6 linked regions of the Homo sapiens genome follow. The protein of the gene in region 1 purifies or fractionates together with the protein of each later gene. This does not show direct contact. Each region holds a gene or a part of one and is shown in the gene's direction. Other genes may lie near its edges.

Region 1 (3,500 bases):
AAGCCACAAATGTAATTGTTCTGTCTCATCAGTTTTCATGGCTTTATACTTCCTCTTTGGCACACCTTAAATTTGGAAAGATGTTTTTGATATTGGAATAGTTAATGTTTAAACATTTACTATTAGCATTAGTACATTTTAAAATTTAAAATGGTATTTGTGTGTATTTCTAAGGTTTATCTTGTTGGACAAGGTAGAAGTGGGGACAAAACTGAGTTTTATGCTTTCATGATCATTGAATAAAGTCATAGTTCCCTTCTCTGAACAAGTTTTGTGCTTTTACAGTCCACACCAGCAGGCTCTAAATGTTTTTTTTATTATATAGCACATTGATAATTTTTTCATTTAACTTGCAGTTTGACATAATTTCAGATAAGCATAATAGCTACAAGTGCAGTGTGAAGAATTTTCTTTTACTCTCCAAACACATTCTGCAGATGTTAGCATTTTGTCACATTTGTCTCATTCTGTGTGTCTGTGTGTGTACGTGCATGTGTGCACACTTTTTTCCTGAACCATTTGTAAGTTGTAGACATAATATATCTTTGTCCCTAAATACTTAAATATGTGTTATAAGGACTTTGACTTAACCATAGTACAGTCAAAATTAGAAAAATAACATTGCTACTTACTCTGATTTACAAACTTTATTCAGATTTCACCAGTTTTTCCAATTATGTCCAATATTGTGGGCTGTGTTCAGTTATCATGCCTCTCTAGGTCTGCTTTGATATGAAATAGTTCTTACTCTTTGTTTCATGACAGTGACATATTTGGATGCCCTTTAATTTGGGTTTGTCTGATTTTTTTCCTCATGTAGGTTCAGCTTTTCCATTTTGCATAGAACATTACAAAAGCATTGTTCTATTCTCAGAGCATTGTTACAGGAGGTCCATGATGTTGATTTGTCTCATTACTGGTGATGTTAACTTTGATTATCTGGTTAATTTGGCCTGTGAAACATTTCTCCACTGTAAAGTCGTTTTCCCTTTGTAATTGTGGAGAGTGCACATTTTTGGTAAATGTGTATTTATAAGTTGTACATACGTATTTGTATACTAATTTATTGTACACATTTTAAAGCCCTCAGAAATATTAGAAATTAAAGAATGAGGTAAAAATAGAGACATTCTTGCATTTTCTTTTTATGCCTCAGTATATCTTTTCATGCCTTCTGAGATGTATACTCCTGGCTTTGTAGACCAGATAGCCCAGACTTCTGTTTGTGTGTGTGTGTGTATTTTGAGAAACTCACTCTTATCGCCCAGGCTGGAATGCAGTGGCACAATCTTGGCTTACTGCAACCTCTGCTTCCCAGGTTCAAGTGATTCTTGTCCCTGAGCCTTCTGAGTAGCTGGGGTTAAAGGCATGTGCCACCATGCCCTGCTAATTTTTGTATTTTTAGCAGAGCAGGGTTTTGCCATGTTGGCCAGGCTGGTCTCAAACTCCTGGCGTCACGTGATTGGCCTGCCTCAGCCTCCCAAAGTGCTGGGATTGCAGGCATGAGCCACCACGACTGGCCAATTCTTTACCCTGTATTAGTTTTATAGAAATTAATCTTGTGTCTTGATTCTGAAATAAAAGTAAAGCTTTTTATATAAAAGTAAAAGCTCCTAGGCGCTTGTGGCCTCACACTTAGTAAGTACTCAAAAATACATGTTCAATGATAGTGATTTTTCCCTATTAATTTTTAATTTTATTTGCAGATGGAGAACTTAATGTTCTGGATGATATTTTAACTGAAGTACCAGAACAAGATGATGAACTGTATAATCCAGAGAGTGAACAAGATAAAAATGAGAAAAAGGGTATGTAAGAGTTCTATTATTTTTGTTGAAATAACAGTATAAATAGAGGAGATTCAATTTCTTAAAAAAAATGACTGTGCTTTTTTGTGCTTGTTCCTTGAGGCAGTTAACACTAAATGTACATAATAAACTGGTATCCATATGAATAGGGATAATCTGTTTTTTTCTAATATATGAAACTTCTCAAATATATGGTTTTATTCCCATAGTTGAAAGCTATGTTTTCTTTTAGATTAACTCTGGAGAAGAAATCTCTCAGAAGACTTTTAAAGAAATGAGGCCTATCCCCCCTTCCTGATGTATATATTATTGTCAGTCTTTGGTGAAATAAATGGAATACTACAAATACTTCTTTTTTTTTTTTTTACATTGTATTTTAAAGGATCAAAAAGAAAAAGTGATCGAATGGAATCTACTGATACCAAACGACAAAAGCCTTCTGTCCATTCTAGACAACTGGTTTCTAAGCCACTGAGCTCATCTGTTAGCAATAACAAAAGAATAGTTAGTACAAAAGGAAAGTCAGCCACAGAGTATAAAAATGAGGAATATCAAAGATCTGAAAGAAACAAGCGTCTAGATGCTGATCGGAAAATTCGTCTATCAAGTAGTGCCTCCAGAGAACCTTATAAGAATCAACCTGAAAAAACCTGTGTCCGGAAAAGGGATCCTGAAAGGAGGGCCAAATCTCCTACGCCAGATGGTTCTGAGGTAGTAAATATTATTGCAGATATAAAACAGAAAGCCATTCTTTTTGAGGCTTTAGAACTGTTTATTCACCCTGACCTTGTCTTTTATATGACTGCTGATTCCCTTTTTCTTTAAACATCAGAGAATTGGGCTTGAAGTGGATAGACGTGCAAGCAGATCCAGCCAGTCTTCTAAGGAAGAAGTGAACTCTGAAGAATATGGCTCTGACCATGAGACTGGCAGCAGTGGTTCTTCTGATGAGCAAGGGAACAACACTGAGAATGAGGAGGAAGGAGTGGAAGAAGATGTGGAGGAAGATGAAGAAGTAGAAGAAGATGCAGAAGAAGATGAAGAGGTGGATGAAGATGGAGAGGAGGAGGAGGAAGAGGAGGAGGAGGAAGAGGAGGAGGAGGAGGAGGAAGAAGAAGAATATGAACAGGATGAGAGAGACCAGAAAGAGGAGGGAAATGATTATGACACTCGAAGTGAGGCCAGTGACTCTGGTTCTGAATCTGTTTCCTTCACAGATGGGTCTGTCAGATCTGGTTCAGGCACAGATGGATCAGGTACTACTTTTTATATGTAAAAGTTTGTCTTAAAAAAAGCTTGATAGGTTTCAGTCTTGAAAATGTTTAAATTATAAAATTGTTGAGGAGATGGGGGATATTAATAGGATTGTCTTGTGATCCTTTATATGCTTTTGAATGTTATAAATACATTTGAATAATCTTGGATAAGATTTACATATTTTAGGAAAGGCATTTCCTAGCTACAGAATGGTTGTGTTGTAAATGAACACAAGTCCATTTGATTCTGTATAAGGAAATGTATTTCAGATTTCTGTAAATTCTTAGATTTTCATACCAGTCAGCAGTTTATTTAAACACTGATGTACTTGAAGTATATTCATAGGAAACCTGTCCACTGGGTATTACAGTATTTCCTTGGTAAAATACCCCTAGATTTCCATCATATGGCTTCAGAATCAAAACAGATTATTTC
Region 2 (3,500 bases), on another chromosome or scaffold:
TGAGTTTGGACGTCTCTTTCTAAAAGCTTAGTTCTCCACACAACTGAAGAGGGAGTGGTCCTAGTGAACCATGTAATGAGGATGTTTATTTAGTCTCTAATGAAAATGACTCAATCATGTTTAAAAATCAGTGGGAAACAAATGCATTAAAAGGAAGAGAATGACAATGCTATGGTAAAGGGATAATCCATAGTAGAGGTTCTAGGAAGGCAGAAGAGAATGGGCTCTAAAAGACAGTTAAAAGATAAACTCAGATATGTGTAGTGGTATTTCTTATATTGTAACTTTATTCGTAAAGGAAGATGGGTCATGGAAGTACATTTGCATTCATGGTAGTAGAAAAATGATGGTTCCCAACTGATAATTATTTTCTCCACACGATTGAAAGAGAGAAAGGAGGACGGAGACTAGAGGATTTAGGAGAGTAGGCAAAAGCTTAAAACAGGCATTGTAGAGTGAACTGAACAGAAAAATACAGGATGGCTAGGAAGAATGGGGGTCCACTTGAGGTTAATTATGATGAATTTATAGTAGACAGAATGTTACAAGTATTTGCTGTTGGCATATGACAATGAAGAACTCAGAGTGTTTTTTTCATTCAGGACTACGGTTTCCTCACCAGAGGGGCAGGAGTTTAAGAAATTGGCAGATGTTATCATGTATCTAAACTGCATAAAAAGAGGAACATTAAGTGTAGGAGTCAGTGGATTGGTGGTCCTAATGAAGTCAAAGATGGTTGTGGTGGGTGGAGTTGAACAAGCAAGCTGATAGAGGTTGTGATCACAGTGTGGAATATTTGAATTAATGGTTTTAGAAATTGAATATTATGAGTGATGACAAGGTTGACAGTGTGGCCATGGAAGTGGATGGCTGAGATAGAATAGATTAGGTCTTTAGAAAATAAGTAAAGAAGTGAAGATATAATTATCAGATGGGCTATTCAAGTGGACATGCAAGTTACACAGAATGATGGCAGAACTTAGGGTGTAAAGAAATTGTAAGTTGGTTGCTAATATCTTCAGTGAATAAGGGAGTGAATGACATGAAGGGTAAGAGAAGATATTAATTAAATGGAAGAGCCTTAAAGAAACAGGATGATGTTGATAATGTTATTTTGGCAAGAAGAATTTGAGGAATTTTTTGTGCCAGGCACTCTTGCAGGGCAAAGAAAACACTATATAAATATTACAAGACTCCTGTTTTCTAGGAGCTTGCTGTCTATAGAAAAAGACAGCCACATGAGCCATTAGTAACAGTGCAGTGAGGTAGATGCTTTAATGACAGAATCTGTATAGTGGGGACCCCAGGGATGGAGTGGTTATCCTTAACTGAAGAAGTCATTGAAGGTATCACTGGAATGACTATATCTGAACCTGAATTTTATATAGTTCCTAAAGTGAAGAAGGGGAAGAAGGACATTCCAGGAGTAATTTTTAAGATGTATGCCTCGTAACTGATAGATGAAATATAAACTCCGTAATTACATGCCATTGCACTGAAAGCTGTTATAATGTGTATTTTTTTTATAACTATAATTTCCATTTTTTGGCCTATAGCTCTGCTTTTTGTTCTTAGAGTTAAACATTGTTCTCCAGTAGGGTGATTTAAATTATGTATTTGTATGTGTGTGCATGTGTGTGTGGGGGGGGGGCATGTATGTTTACATGCACATATGCTTGCACACAATGCCCTTGTGTTTGTGGATCTTCTTTTAAAATTATACTTGAAATAATTTGTTACTAAAAATAATGAAAGATTTGTTTTATAAATATGTAAAATAAATTGCTAATTAAAAGCTAATTTGCTAATTAAAATAGTCATTCAACAAATTAAATTCCTACCATTATGAGTGAGGCTTTGTTTTAACGGTGGGAATACAAAGATGAATATGACAGGCTGTGATTTCAGGGAACTCACTGTTTATTATATTCCAAGCCCAGCAAGATATAAGTGTAACATTAAAATACTTATCTCGGGTAATACTGTGACTTTTTAAAAAATTATAACTTGTTTTTCTTAAGCTCTCAGACACATTTTTAGACTGTTGATTTATTCCTTCACTATTTATGGAAGAGGTTTGATTTCATCAAGCTACGAATATAGTTAGACAATAAAAGTAGTTAAAGTGGTAGACTAAGTCTCAAATATTAAGACTCAAAATAAAGTGTGTTTGTTCCTGAAGTAAGTGCCTTTCTTCTAATTATTGCTTTATTCTTCAAAGGTTGTGAAGATGAGAAAAGAAGTGAAGAGAATTCGAGTTTTAGTTATCCGAAAACTTGTCAGGAGTGTTGGCCGACTGAAGTCAAAAAAGTTAGTCATTTAAAGTAATGATCTTGTGACTAATAAAATGTCAAAAGTTGTTTTTATTTGATACTTTAAAATGTTTAGGGTGGGATATAGAGAAGTAATTAAATGTCTTATACACCATTTTTGTTTTGTATGCGGAGATGATGTGAGTGAGATAGAATGTGCTGTGTCAGCATGCCCTTCTATGGTTTGGACCATCATTGCTCAAGATACAGGATGAATTTTTTTGCTGCTTTTGCAAAACTCTCTTTTGGTCTTTTTAGAATGAAATTCCCTTGGGCTTGTGTGTTTTGTGTTATCAGAAGTTATTTTAAGATACTGATACAGCTTAACAAATCTAGTAATACCTTAAGAATCAGTTTTGAAGATTTTATATCACATTTTTTCTTGAATTGCTAAGTAATTTGAAATCTTCAGTACCTTATGAAAGTGTTTATTAGAACATTGTGTTCCATGTAATTTTTTGGAAAAATACAATATTTTGTATTTTCAGTATCACTAGTGTTAGTGAAAAAGTATTTTATTTATAGTTCTTTTTATGATGTAAGCATGAATACTTAGTCTTCAAGTATGTTTTGTTCCTGATTAATTTCCTATTCTTTCATAAATATGTCAGAATATAGCCCTTCTTTATTTTTTCCTTAAATGCCAGAGAGCAAATTTTCATTTGATAAAATTATAGTCAAACTCTAATTGTAAATTATGACATTTATATTACATTAAATACAATGTACGATTGATTGATTTAAAAAAGTGTTATTAAGGAACTAGAGAAGGCAAACTATCAAAAGTAATAGTCATTAATACAATGGCAAGACAGTACTTATTTTTGCCATTTTCCAACATATGGGTTTGGTTAGTAAATTGAGGTGTGTTTTGGGAGTGGGGGAAATGGACAGTGTAGGATAGTGGCGTGTTTGTTATTTAGAGATTTATTACGCTTTTCTAAAAAGAAATGAAGTGATTATCCATTACACTATAAGTCTAAAATTAATGCTTTGCCTGGCTACATATCGTAATGTATTTTTTGCAGGGGTACTGAAGATGCACTGTTAAAAAACCAAAGACGGGCGCAAAGATTGCTTGAAGAAATCCATGCCATGAAGGTAAGGACTTGTGTGGGTGTGTATGTGTGTATGTTTCTGAGTATCCTGTTATCCTGCATTTTGTTTGTGTGTGGTATTGCTTATTTG
Region 3 (3,500 bases), on another chromosome or scaffold:
CAGCTACTGAGGAGGCTGAGGTGGGAGGATCACTTGAGTCCAGGATATCAAGGTTGCAGTGAGCTATGATCCATGATTACAACATGCACTCCAGCTTGGGTGACAGAGCTAGACTGTGTCTCTAAAAGAAATAAAAAGGTTAAAATGACAAGTTTTATGTTACATATATTTTACCACAATTTTTAAAAGTTAATAATGGAATATACCAAAGCCATTTAATTGTATACTTTATTTTTTCTTCTAGCTTTATTGAGGTATATTTGACAAACAGAAGTAGTATACATTTTAAGATGTTCATCGTGATGATTTGATACCCATATACATTGTAAAGTGACCACCTCAATCAAGCTGATTAACACATCCATCACGTCACATGGTTACCTTTTTGTGTGTGTGTGGTGACAACACTTAAGATCTCCTAGCAGATTTCAAGTATATAATACATCATTAATTATAGTCACCATGCTGTACACTTTAAATGGTGTTCAAATTTATATCTCAATAAAGCTGTTTTTAAAAATCAAGTAACAGCTGGGCATGGTGGCTCACGCCTGTAATCCCAGCACTTTGGGAGGCCAAGGCGGGCAGATCACCTGAGGTCAGGAGTTTGAGACCAGCCTGGCTAACATGGTGAAACCCTGTCTCTGCTAAAAATACAAAAATTAGCCGGGCGTGGTGGCAGTTATCTGTAATCCCAGCTACTCGGGAGGCTGAGGCAGGAGAATCGCTTGAACCTGGGAGGCAGAGGTTGCAGTGAGCCGAGATCGTGCCATCGCACTCCAGCCTGGGGGACAAGAGCGAGACTTCCTCTCTAAAAAATAAAAAAAATTAAAAAAAATTAACACATAAATACAATATGATATTATTTTCCTAAAGTTACACATGAATCCCTTTCCCCTTCCCCCAGAGACAAACAGTATTTCTCTTGATGCAGCAAAATGCTGTTTCATTACAGAGAAACAGTATTTCAATACAGTATTCTGTACAGTATTTTCAATACAGAGAAATACAGTATTTCTCTGTAGATGTAGAGAAAAAGGATGGGAAGGATACTCCTCAAACTAATAGCAGTAGGGTAGGGTTTGGAGGTGGGTACAGGAGGAACTGTAGCTTTATTAGCATTCACTATTTTATAGTGAGAATATATTCACATTACTTTTCAAATTAGAACTACAGTTTTTTGGGCCAGGTGTGGTGGCTCACACCTGTAATCCCAGCACTTGGGGAGGCCAAAGCAGGCAGATTGTTTGAACCCAGGAGTTCAAGACCAGCCTGGGCAAACAGGGAGACCCTCCAACTCTACAAATAATAATAATGTTTAAAAAGTTGGGCATGGTAGTGCATGCTTGTTGTTCCAGCTACTTTGGAGGCTGAGATGGGAGGATGGCTTGAGCCCAGAAGGACCAGGCTGCAGTGAGCCATGATTGCACCACTGCACTCCAGCCTGGGCAACAGAGTAAGACTCTAAAAAAAAAAAAAAATACAATTTTTGGAAAAGGTAAAGAATCAATAAAATGTAGACATCTGGGTTTATTGCTTAATGACTTGACTTTTTCCTTTGCCTTTCTTTGAAGGATTCTGAAAGACTAATGGAGCAACAAGGAGCACTGCTGAAACGGCTGGCGGAGGCCGACTCAGAGAAAGCGGTAACTAAGGCTGCCCTTGTCTACTCTAGTGGGTACAGGTGGCAAGAGCGTCGTTCCACTACAAAGTGTAGAGGTGCTTGGATCAAGGCAGGAGGGCTGGAGCATTTCGCTAGGTCTTAGTTTCACGATCTGTAAAATGGGCTGATGTCCTCCTGTCACGCTTGTTCTGATAGGCTTGTCTAGTTAGTTACTTGAGACCTTGAGCCACAAAGCTGGACACCAACATAGAGAGGGTAATGATGATGTTGGATTTGTAAATCATCCGTGTCTGTTAAAGCTGGATTTCCATCAAATTAGTATTATGGATTCAAAGCCATCAAAAAGTACACACCTTTGGACTCAGTAATCCTAATTCTAGGAATCTCTCCCAAAGCAGCATGTTCCAAAGTCTGTTCATGGAACCCTAAGTTCCTCAAGATGTTAATGAGTGCAAGAAACCGAAGGGGAGGTTCCATAGCCAGTTAAATTTGGGAAACCATAGGCTGGCCTGAACATGAAGTTCAACAGCTTCTTTCAAGACTTTTTTGGAGTGTCTGCTGTATTAATGCTTTTGTAAGTCTCCAAGAGAGGGGAGGGAGACGGAGGCCCAGTTTCCCAAGGTGTGGTCTGTGGCCTCTGATGCTTAGTTGAGGAAGGAGTGGAGATGCAGCAAGCTCGGCGATAATGCCTAAATGTGCATTCCCAGCTCAAGAACCCTTGTTAAGTTATGATATACATCAGTAACTTGAACCGTCAAGCAGCTCTTTCAAAAGACACAGAAGATTTAATCACATTATGGTAAACATGAGCTTTTAGGCTATGGAACGAAGTAGGCATATGACTTTTTTTTTTTAACGGTGCTGAGCATATGAGTTTCAATGTGCATTAACTGGTTATCTCTGCATGGGGGGTTACGGGGTTTCTTTGGAGGATTTTTTTGGTGTGTTCTCAATGTTTTCTACAGTTAACATTGCTGTTCTTAAATTGCAAAATAAATACATGTTCATTGTTTTAAAAAAATGTTTTAATGCATATGTTAGGTGCTTCCTACCAGAATCTCTGACATGGGCCAATGTATGTAGGACCTTGGGCCCCAGTGGCCAGGTACTCACAAATCTCTGTCCTCCCTGGGCCGGGCCTCTTTGCCCTTCCCAGGGGCACCTGACAGCCTGTGTTCTCTCCCAGCGCCTGCTGTTACTGCTGCAAGACAAGGACAAGGAGGTGGAAGAGCTCCTTCAGGAAATACAATGTGAGAAGGTAGTGTGCTTTTTTTTTTTTTTTTTTTAGACGGAGTCTCGCTCTGTCGCCAGGCTGGAGTGCAATGGCGCGATCTCAGCTCGCTGCAACCTCTGCCTCCCGGATTTGAGTGATTCTCCTGCCTCAGCCTCCCGAGTAGCTGGGACTACAGGCGTGCGCCACCACGCCCAGCTAATTTTTGTATTTTTAGTAGAGACGGGGTTTCACCATGTTGGCCAGGATGGTCTTGATCTCTTGACCTCGTGATCTGCCTGCCTCGGCCTCCCAAAGTGCTGGATTACAGGCATGAGCCACTGCGCCCAGCCGCAGTTGTGCATTTTTATGAGCCAGTAGAATATAATGGATATGCAGAGAGCTGGGTTCAAATCCTGTCTTTGGGCCGGGTGCAGTAGCTCATGTCTGGCACTTTTTCGAGACCAGCCTAGGCCACTCCCTAGCACTTTGGGAGGCCAATGCAGGAGGACTCATTGAGGCCAGGAGTTTGAGACTGTCCTGGGCAACACAGGGAGACCCCATCTCTACAAAATTAAAATTAAAATTAAAAAATCAGCCAGGTGTGGTGGCATGCACCTGTAGTTCCAGCTACTCTGGATGCTGAGATGGGAGGATCACTTGAGC
Region 4 (3,500 bases), on another chromosome or scaffold:
CTAAAAGTATGGGGCCATTAGAATCTTGTCCTGCCACCACTTTATGAGTATTTATTATTAAGAGTATATGCCATCCTCACTGGTTATTTTGTACCGCTCAGGGAACACATGCCCACAATCTTGTCCTGCCACCACTTTATGAGTATTTATTATTAAGAGTATATGCCATCCTCACTGGTTATTTTGTACCGCTCAGGGAACACATGCCCACAATCTTGTCCTGCCACCACTTTATGAGTATTTATTATTAAGAGTATATGCCATCCTCACTGGTTATTTTGTACCGCTCAGGGAACACATGCCCACAATCTTGTCCTGCCACCACTTTATGAGTATTTATTATTAAGAGTATATGCCATCCTCACTGGTTATTTTGTACCGCTCAGGGAACACATGCCCACAATCTTGTCCTGCCACCACTTTATGAGTATTTATTATTAAGAGTATATGCCATCCTCACTGGTTATTTTTGTACTGCTCAGGGAACACATGCCCACAATCTTGTCCTGCCACCACTTCATGAGTATTTATTATTAAGAATATATGCCATCCTCACTGGTTATTTTTGTACCGCTCAGGGAACACATGCCCACTTTGGAGGAATTCTTTGAAGAAGCCATTGAACAGGCAGACCCTGAAAATATGGTGGAAAATGAATATAAGTAAGTATGCTCCTCATTAGCTCCTTTTAATTTTCTTCAATTTGTTTCTTCCTTAGGAATTGTGTGTATACTAGAAAGCCTCTTAAGAGAGGCAGTAGATAGAATAGTGCTTTTTCTCTTAGGTGAGTTTATGTTCCAAGTTCTTGTTAGTACACATCCTGATTTCAAGGATTATTCCTGTTAACTAAGCATGACTTGGAATCACCCTTGTTTCAAAATATAAGAAAAAAAAAACTCCCCCTGATCCCCATTTCTCTCCAACTATTAGTTCTGTTCTCTCTACCCTTCAAAGCACAGTATCTCACAGCAGCTGTTAACCTATCCTGTTCCCCTTAATGTTTTCTTCTCTTGGCGTCCATGAGAATCCAAATCCATGGTTCTTCTGTTTGCCCTTTGCCCTCGTTGCCCACTCCACCTCACATTCCATTTCAGCCTCCTCATCCTCTGCCTAACTCAAATTTTGGAGTAACATCAGGAATTGGTCTTAGCCTCTTTATCTAGAACCTTCTGGGTGACACCGCAGTCTCATGGCTTTAAATAGGAATTGAAGAGTAGTGGTTTAAAGGCAAGAGGCCTCTGGTCAGAATGCATAGGTTCGATTCCCTCTACCACTTACTTACTAGGCAACTAAGGCTAATTTAATTATTAAACCGCCAGTTCCCTTTCCTCATCTGTTAAATAGTAACAGTACCCATTTCACAGGGTTATTCTGAGGATTAAATAAGACAGTGCACTTTGAACCCTACAGGGCATGTGGTTAGCACTCAGTATTTGTGACTAGTGTGACCCTGTGACCAGAGTTGTTAATTACTGTGACCTCTTAACTAATCTCTCTAGTTGTGGTCAGTGCTCCATGCATCAGCCAGTGATCTTTAAAATAATTGTCCAAGTCTAATCTGCTTAAAATCTCCCAGTGAGTGCCTATTCCAAACTCCTTCCCAGGGCCTAAAAGACCTCCTTGGTCTGGCTCATACTCTCCTGTGTGGCCATGCCTCCCCTCTGCTTTAACCACAGCAGGCCTCTTGGTCCTGTCTTTCCCTTTCCTGTCAGGACCTTCACACTTTACTGTCTCACTTGCTTGAACCACTTTTTCCCCAAGGTTGCCGTGGCTTAAAGTCCCCCTGGCTGGGAAGCTCTTCCCCTCCCTGGTCTCCTCTTTTGCATTCTCGTGGTTTTTATTTCACGGCACTTACCACTATCCAAATGAGAAGGTGGCACTTACCACTTTCTCATTTCTCAAGTTTTCCTCATCCTTATGAAATTGTCTTATACCTTGTGTGTTTATCACTAGCAATGCCTGCCTTACTGTGCCTCAGGTACTCTCCACAGCTACTGAGTGCCTGGCTCAAAAGTGTTTGTCGATTGAAAGAATATTAATTTATCACTGTTACATAAGACTAGGTGGACTCATTCCTAAAGTGATAGTTCAAATTATTATCTCCAAAGAGGGTTTTGTGGAGAATAAGAAAAATGATGTGTATAATTGACAGTGAATTTTGAAAATGCCTAAAATAATCAAATTGTCTAAACAGATATGTCAGAGAGGAAGGCTCTTAACTGTTTAGGCAAAGCCTCACAGCAGGTGTTAACTTGGGAAGAGTCCCCAGTGTCTATGGGTAGTTTTTGTTAAGTCTTCAGTGGTACCTGCACATCCTAAAGGTAACATATGCTTATTTATAAGAGGTGACCAAATAAACCAAATTGCTATTCTTAGGGGAGGAAGAGACTTCCAATCCAAAACTCTTAAATGGAATAAATTTGTGGTTTGGTTTCTTCCGCAGCATTGCATATTTCTGACGCATTATCTTTAGAATTTCTCTGCAGTTTGTTTCTCACCTGATGGTATACCACCCTGATCATTGTTATACTTCATTAGGGAACAGTTCATGGATTCCAAATAGCTAGATGGATGATTCCTGTTGTATACGTACTGCATCCAGCCAGTACTGCACACACTTGTTGACTTGTTAAAATTAAACAAAATGAACGGAAACTTTGAAAATGTGTTTGCTGCATATGAGCCTGCCTCTTCAGGCATTGTTGGTTCCTGTGATTAGTTACATGTGCATCTATTGGTTTGTTATTATCAGTGGACTACATACTGAAAAGTTCTTTAGGAATAAGATTCAAATACAAAGAATGGCACTTTGAGCTATTTACCTTAAATACAGAATTACACATGGCAGAACTGAGCAGAAGGGAATACAGAAATACAAAGCTATAAATTACAAGCCTGACACCTCTTTTTATAGGGCTGTGAACAATTCAAATTATGGTTGGAGAGCCCTGAGACTATTAGCACGGAGAAGCCCTCACTTCTTCCAGCCAACCAACCAGCAGTTTAAAAGTTTACCAGAATATCTTGAAAATATGGTAATAAAGCTAGCCAAGGAATTACCGGTAAGTACCATAGATCAACTTTTCATACCCTTTAGTTGACATCTTCTTTAAAATTGCTGTCACTATGTGAGCAAAAAACTGACTTAATCATGTGAAAAACCAGTGATCCACAAGCTCCCATGTTTTAGAATGAGGGAAAAACACATTGGAATATACATTTACAGGAAATACATGAGTTGATAAAGAAGTAACTGATAATTTTCTGTACAGCATGTAATTTAAAGTTCAACAGGGCTGTGGGTGCGGTGGCTCACGACTGTAATCCCAGCACTTTGGGAGGCCGAGGCGGGTGGATCATGAGGTCAAGAGATTGAGACCATCCTGGCCAATATGGTGAAACCCCGTCTCTACTAAAATATAAAAAATTAGCCAGGTGTGGTGGCACGTGCCTGTAGTCCCAGCTACTCAAGAGGCTGAGGCAAGGGAATTGCTTGAACC
Region 5 (3,500 bases), on another chromosome or scaffold:
TTACAAATCTGTTTTGATGAAGGCTGGTTATATTTCCCCATTTGGGGATCCAAATAAAACCATTTCACTGATTGGCTTTCTGTGGGGGTGTTTCTATATGGGTATAGGACAAGAATTCTCCATTTAGGTGCACATAATCCTGTATTTTAAAAAAATCACAGAAAAAATTTAATGTTTTATTATTAATGGTTTTTTTTTTTTTGCACTTTCCTAATTTTTTCTCACTTTATTTTTCAGAATGAAACTAGTGATCGAGAAGATGGCCTCCCCAAAGGACATCATGTGACAGACTCTGAGAACGATGAGCCCTTAAATCTTAATGCTAGTGACTCTGAAAGTGAGGAGCTTCACAGGCAAAAGGACAGCGACTCTGAATCTGAGGAACGTGCAGAGCCTCCTGCAAGCGATTCTGAAAATGAGGATGTCAATCAGCATGGGAGCGACTCTGAGAGTGAAGAGACCAGGAAATTACCTGGTAGTGACTCTGAAAATGAGGAACTTCTTAATGGGCATGCAAGTGACTCAGAAAACGAAGATGTTGGGAAGCATCCCGCCAGTGATTCTGAGATTGAGGAGCTCCAGAAGAGTCCTGCTAGTGACTCTGAAACAGAAGATGCTCTAAAACCTCAAATCAGTGACTCTGAGAGTGAGGAACCCCCAAGGCACCAAGCCAGTGACTCCGAAAATGAGGAGCCTCCCAAACCTCGAATGAGTGATTCTGAAAGTGAGGAGCTTCCTAAACCTCAGGTCAGTGATTCAGAAAGTGAGGAACCCCCAAGGCACCAGGCCAGTGACTCTGAAAATGAGGAGCTTCCCAAACCTCGTATCAGTGACTCAGAAAGTGAGGACCCTCCGAGGCACCAGGCCAGTGACTCAGAAAATGAAGAGCTTCCCAAACCCCGAATCAGTGATTCGGAAAGTGAGGATCCCCCAAGGAACCAGGCCAGTGATTCGGAAAATGAGGAGCTACCCAAACCCCGAGTCAGTGACTCTGAGAGTGAGGGGCCTCAGAAGGGGCCTGCCAGTGACTCAGAAACTGAGGATGCGTCCAGACACAAACAGAAGCCAGAGTCAGATGATGACAGCGACAGGGAGAATAAGGGAGAGGATACAGAAATGCAGAATGACTCCTTCCATTCAGACAGCCATATGGACAGAAAAAAGTTTCACAGTTCTGATAGTGAGGAGGAAGAACACAAAAAGCAAAAAATGGACAGTGATGAAGATGAAAAAGAGGGTGAGGAGGAGAAAGTAGCGAAGAGAAAAGCTGCTGTGCTTTCTGATAGTGAAGATGAAGAGAAAGCATGTAAGGAGTTACCTTGGGCTGTTTATCAATGGCTTTATTCATTGTCTAAGCTTGTAACTGTGGAACATTGTATCCTCTTGGTATGTCAGATCTGTGTTCTGTTATTCAGCTTAATATTCTAAAATATCAGTAGGACACTCATTTCCCCTGGTTATCATTAGCTAAGCTTAATAGTAAGTTTCCTTGGAGTTCTATTAGCACATATTAATCTCTGACTGCCTCAAAGTGATAAACCACATGTCAATAGGAATATAAAATACTGTTTTTTTTTTTTAAAACTGGAAGAGGTAATGTTTCAAAGAAATACGTTTACATAAAAACCCCTAACTGTATTAATTGTTAGCTGTGGGTCTCTTTGACACTTAGTTCACTAGATCCCATCCAAACAGTAACAGCTCCCACAGGTACATCTCTTCATTTGTTAAACATTGTTGAATATTCAGATACAGGGAAGCTTTGAGAGGATTCTATTTAGAGACACCATCTCTCTCCAGAGTGTTTCAGTCTCTGCTATCTAAGACTCCATTTGCACAGATAGTATTACTTGTCTACTTTTTTATGAAACTTATCTTTTTTGGAAAAGACATATTTCATTATAACCTCACAGTTCTTATAGGAGAAGGAAAAGGTACCAGACATGCTGTCAATTTGTTAAGGGAGATGAGAAATTTCAAACTGACCAGCAATGATAGAGGAACATGGAGACTATTCCTAGAAAGAAATATGTAGTCCTTTTTAGTTCAGTTACTACTAGGCAACATAGAAAGGATGCCAGTTTTGCCCATCAATCTAGTTTTAATTTTCTCGATTTCCCAAAAGGAAAGGTGGCTGCTTTTATATTGATGATATCTTTCTTCATCTTTTGGCCAGTTTTTCTTAAGCAAAATAACAGATAATTTGTAAGATGACTCTGAATGAGCCATTTAGTTATTTTAAAAATTCTAAACCATGTGTCAGGAGGCCCTCTGATTTTATTTTATTTATTTATTTATTTATTTATTTATTTATTTATTTTTGCTGTATACTGCCATCTTAAAGCACCTGTTATGCTTAGTAATACAATGGCTGTGATAAAATAAAATTAATGATGATTTTCTTTTTCAACAGCAGCAAAGAAGAGTCGTGTTGTCTCTGATGCAGATGACTCTGACAGTGATGCTGTATCAGACAAGTCAGGCAAAAGAGAGAAGACCATAGCATCTGACAGTGAGGAAGAAGCTGGGAAAGAATTGTCTGATAAGAAAAATGAAGAGAAGGATCTGTTTGGGAGTGACAGTGAGTCAGGCAATGAAGAAGAGTAAGTGACAGTATAACATGAGTTTTCAGGGGTTCTTAATTAGGCAGTAGAGAGGGGTCTGTGTTATAATACAATATGTCCTGCCTAATTGCATGTCTTTGGGGATTTAGTATTTTAGTTCCTGAACTGAACACACTACAATGTGGGTGAATCTCAGAATTCATCTCAGAATTAACATGTTAAGTGAAAGAAAGCAAAGAGGACATATATGATTCCATTTACATGAAGTTCAGTAGGCAAAATTTATCTGTGGTGTTGGAAGTCAAGGTGGCAGTTGTTTCTAGGATGTTGATATTGGGGACCAGCTAGAAGGGGCCATGAGAGGACTTTCTGGGGAGGCTACATGAGTGTATAGGGTGCTGGTTACATGAGTGTATATATTTGTTAAAACTCATTGAACTGAACACTGAAGATCTGCACATTTTACTGTACATAAATTCTATTTTTTAAAAAATGGTTCCTATGCAAATGAGGATAAAGCAAATGAATGTTTTTACATTTGTCTACTTTCTAGAAATCTTATTGCAGACATATTTGGAGAATCTGGTGATGAAGAGGAAGAAGAATTTACAGTAAGTATAAGATGGAAATATTTCCTCCTTGATTGTGCTTTTTTTTGGTGTTTTTATGGCAGTGATACCATTATAGATGATTCTAATAAGTAGGAATAAACAATTATGATGTATTCAAGATAAAAATCTAGAAGAGGGATTCAGGAAGTAAAATGAAAGCGTATATACAAAGACATAAAAGGAAGCTAATGGGCAAAATTGAATTAAGGGGGAAGGGACACTTTGAGACAAAGAAAGTCACTTTATAATGCTAAAGGGCAAGATTCACAATAATTAGGGAACTTCCGATTTTCACAGTGGCATTCTAGGTGATTTGGACTAACCC
Region 6 (3,500 bases), on another chromosome or scaffold:
AGAAACCTTTTCCACACCAGTTCTGCAGCAGTCGCTATTAGATGCTCGTGGTAGAACCCATCAATCATCTGGTCCTCTGGGTACTGGTGAGCATCCCTGGTCTTCATACCTGTGAGTGGGCTTTGTGGTGAATTACTGTAAATATGCTACCCTCACTTTTCTTGGCAGTTATGTCGATGAAATCAAGAGTGTGATGTTCTAGTTATTTTTTTTTATATATATTTTTAAATGTTCAATATTCAACTATTGAAACAAATGTACATCTGTGAACTAGCTAAAATCATCTTATGTACCACTAATATGCCCAGCACATTTTGTAAAACAGTCCTGATTTGGCCTCCAAGGGTATTTATTGAACTACCAGCAGTATCTAGGAGACCACGAAGGAATACCACGAAGGAATTTATGCTCCAGTGCTTGCCATAATTTGTCTGAGAAGGAATCTGTTAAATAAAAGCTTTTATCCTCTAACCTTTACCTTCATCAGACCTTATAAAAGGTCAAATGGTGATTCTTAAGTTTTTTAGTCACAAATCTTACTTATTCAGTATTAGTGCGAAGAGTAGAATACTTTCAAGTAAGCCTAAACTTACATGAAAACAAATTACATAAATCTAGCTCTGAGAATAGGAAATTAGTGACAAGATCAATCTGTAAGATGTTGAGCACTTATCTGAAGTAAATGGGTAATGAGTTTCACATCTTATAAATACAAGTTAGCATGTGTTTTCTCAAGAGTCCAAGGGTTTTCATTATTGGACTACAGCTTTAATCTTCTAAATGTTATTCCCCAAGATTAAAGAGCATCTCAAGTTAGATCACCAAAGATCAAAAGCTAAAACCAGAAGTATTTTTGTCATTGTGGTGGTGGTAGTGTTACTAATTGCCTAGATTTTTAAAGGGAAACATTTTTTTCACTGGGTTGTTTCGTTGAAAAAAATAGAAGCAGAAACTTGCCCAAAGTCACAGTGGTCAAACTGGAAATTGCACCAAAACTTGGCATACTGGTTCTGAAATCCATAGTTTTAGCCCTTATGTATACTGGTTAATTTGGAAGGAAGAAATATATACGTTCTGAAGTGAAGAGTGAGTGAAAGGAAGAATTCAGTGAATACATTGATACCTTGATATTATCTGCATTGTGGCTACATGTTACTTTTCTTCACAAGAGTGATATAAGTGAAATAAAGAATGATTGGACTGGGAGAAAAATGGCTCAGAAAACTTTGCAAAAGTACGACTGTATGTAAAGATAAGTATTCAACATTAAATGGGAAGGAGGAGAGCAAGCAGTTTAATATATAGAATTTTATAATTTTAGGCCTGCAAGGGACCTTATAAAACATGAGCAATGGAACACTTTTTTCCAAACTAAATTTCGTGCAGTGGAACTTGGCCGACTCTGTCCTTCCTCTATTCTAAGCACCCTACTCTAGCCCGGCTGCTCTGAGTTCAGTTTGTTACAAATATGGACACGAAAGTACCACAGGCTTTGCACAGCTTAATTGAAGTTTCCCCTTCACACCATGGTAAAAAAACATACTGGGATGGAAGGGTTTGTGTCTAGAACAAGAACAAGAAATAAACTCTTGGTCACTTACTAATATTTCAAAATCACAAAGCAGAATTTTGCTTGGATGTTTAGTAAAACATCCTTGGAAATTTAACTGCTTGCAGCTTCTACACTTCTTCATTAAATGCTGTCTGGCTAATAAAAAGTGCCATGTTGCAGCTTTATTTTATTTTCATTTTTTGGAGATAGACCCTCACTGTGTCACCCAGGCTGGAGTGCAGTGGTACAATCTCTGCTCACTGCAACCTCCACCTCCTGGGCTCAAGTGATTGTCCTGCCTCAGCCTCCTGAGTAGCTGGGGTTACGGGCGTCCACCACCACACCCAGCTAGTTTTTGTATTTTTAGTAGAGGGGGTTTTTGCCATGTTGGCCAGGCTGGGCATGGTGGCATGGTAATCTCAGCTACTTGGGAGGCTGAGGCAGGAGGATCGCCTGAACCCGTGAGATGGAGGTTGCAGTGAGCTGAGATCACACCACTGCACTCTAGCATGGGTGACAGAGCAAGACTCTGTCTCAAAAAAAAAAAACAAAAAAAAAAACGAAAACAGAATTCTGTTTGTTTGGATGACCTGTTATACTTATTTTTGATCTTGCTGAAATAAGCAAATCTTAGGAATCTTAGTCTACAGTTTCTGACAGTTTTTTTTGTTGTTGTTGTTTGACCAATTAGAACTAAATAAAAAGAACGTGATTTTCACATTTAAATTTCTCTTAAATGTATTCCTAGAACAGTAAGCCATTGGTTTAATTGCTACTTGATGCCAGTTTCCTTGAAGATAGCCGTTAAGATAAAACATGGTTTCATTGTTAATTCTGTAGAAAGTTACATGTTACTATTATGTTATTCTATTGGTGTATTGTTCCTTTTACTCACCACAGAGATTGTCCAAACACTTGTCATTATTGGGGCAGGCACTGCAGGTGGCTCCTCTCTTATATGGCCAAGTTGGGTAATTCCCTCTGTAAAGCAGAAGAAGGATGTCCATTAGAAGTTTTTCGGTTTTTTAAAATTGCAATTTACTATGAATCCTTAACTAAATCCAGAAGAATAGTGGAGTGAAGTACAAAGGTCCAGAGAGTTGGTAATAGAAGTGAAGACAGGAAGGCAGAAATGGAAGGCTGCTAATATTTGCATAGTTCATTCTATGTACCTGTGTCTATGCACCTGTTTTAATCTGCATCCCATTTAATTGTGACAGCTCTGAGAGGAAGTTATTCTTGTTTTACAGATGAGACAAAAGATGTAAGAGATACCTTTAATCACAATTTATACACTTCAGAGTCAGAGGAAACCTGGATTTAACTCCAGGGCTGTGCTCCCTCTCTTTACCTACCCTCTGGCCTATATGATTACTGCCATTTAAAAAACTGTCCATCTTAGAAAAGCTATGGTGACCCACATTCAATATTCTCAGTTGGTCAGCCCTCCATAATTTTCACTGGATAGGAGCCATTTGGCTGGTGCCTTCCAAAAAAATAATAAATAATGGTATGGGGGAATTTCTAAAGTACAAATTGTTTTCACATACAAGATGTGATATGAATAATAGCTGCTAATTAGTGAGCACTACCATGTGCTTGTCTTTGTTCTAAACAACCTTGAATGAAATAATCTTCACAAAAACCCTATGAGGAAGTTACTGTTGTCTATTTATACCCATTATATAGCTAGAGGCTGAGTCACAGAGTATAAGTAATTGACCAAGGTCACAGACTAGAAAGTGAAATAATATCCAAGCATTTTATATCCCCATAAATATCCTCATAGTAGTAATGGGGAGAGGGGGCACATTTATCTCAATGAACCTGCCATTGCACTAATTTTTTTTGGAACTCTGCTTTTGGAAAAAGTTCTAAACTTTTTTGTGTAATCGTACCCTTTGGCAGTCTGGTGAGGCCTATGGGCTCTTTCTCAACATAGTTTGTT

Evidence for each region.
Region 2: the proteins of YTHDC1 (region 1) and SRFBP1 purify together in Homo sapiens (co-immunoprecipitation; one large-scale study listed by IntAct). This does not show direct contact.
Region 3: the proteins of YTHDC1 (region 1) and ODF2 purify together in Homo sapiens (co-immunoprecipitation; one large-scale study listed by IntAct). This does not show direct contact.
Region 4: the proteins of YTHDC1 (region 1) and THOC1 purify together in Homo sapiens (pull-down; one large-scale study listed by IntAct). This does not show direct contact.
Region 5: the proteins of YTHDC1 (region 1) and IWS1 fractionate together in Homo sapiens (co-fractionation; one large-scale study listed by BioGRID). This does not show direct contact.
Region 6: the proteins of YTHDC1 (region 1) and KRR1 purify together in Homo sapiens (co-immunoprecipitation; one large-scale study listed by IntAct). This does not show direct contact.

What each region holds. Positions count from the first base shown.
Region 1 is NC_000004.12:68,336,591-68,340,090, reverse strand, and holds part of YTHDC1 (YTH domain-containing protein 1), read left to right. Parts: intron 1-1,706; coding exon 1,707-1,808; intron 1,809-2,190; coding exon 2,191-2,519; intron 2,520-2,640; coding exon 2,641-3,064; intron 3,065-3,500. UniProt on the Homo sapiens protein: Regulator of alternative splicing that specifically recognizes and binds N6-methyladenosine (m6A)-containing RNAs.
Region 2 is NC_000005.10:121,971,975-121,975,474, forward strand, and holds part of SRFBP1 (serum response factor-binding protein 1), read left to right. Parts: intron 1-2,221; coding exon 2,222-2,310; intron 2,311-3,340; coding exon 3,341-3,413; intron 3,414-3,500. UniProt on the Homo sapiens protein: May be involved in regulating transcriptional activation of cardiac genes during the aging process. May play a role in biosynthesis and/or processing of SLC2A4 in adipose cells.
Region 3 is NC_000009.12:128,480,006-128,483,505, forward strand, and holds part of ODF2 (outer dense fiber protein 2), read left to right. Parts: intron 1-207; exon of another isoform or gene 208-811; intron 812-1,574; coding exon 1,575-1,646; intron 1,647-2,810; coding exon 2,811-2,882; intron 2,883-3,500. UniProt on the Homo sapiens protein: Seems to be a major component of sperm tail outer dense fibers (ODF).
Region 4 is NC_000018.10:216,048-219,547, reverse strand, and holds part of THOC1 (THO complex subunit 1), read left to right. Parts: intron 1-578; coding exon 579-662; intron 663-2,914; coding exon 2,915-3,062; intron 3,063-3,500. UniProt on the Homo sapiens protein: Component of the THO subcomplex of the TREX complex which is thought to couple mRNA transcription, processing and nuclear export, and which specifically associates with spliced mRNA and not with unspliced pre-mRNA.
Region 5 is NC_000002.12:127,502,490-127,505,989, reverse strand, and holds part of IWS1 (protein IWS1 homolog), read left to right. Parts: intron 1-237; coding exon 238-1,306; intron 1,307-2,413; coding exon 2,414-2,603; intron 2,604-3,117; coding exon 3,118-3,175; intron 3,176-3,500.
Region 6 is NC_000012.12:75,494,610-75,498,109, reverse strand, and holds part of KRR1 (KRR1 small subunit processome component homolog), read left to right. Parts: 3' UTR 1-2,447; coding exon of another isoform or gene 2,448-2,533; 3' UTR 2,534-3,500. Other genes in the region: GLIPR1 (glioma pathogenesis-related protein 1 precursor), read right to left, coding at 2,448-2,533. UniProt on the Homo sapiens protein: Part of the small subunit (SSU) processome, first precursor of the small eukaryotic ribosomal subunit.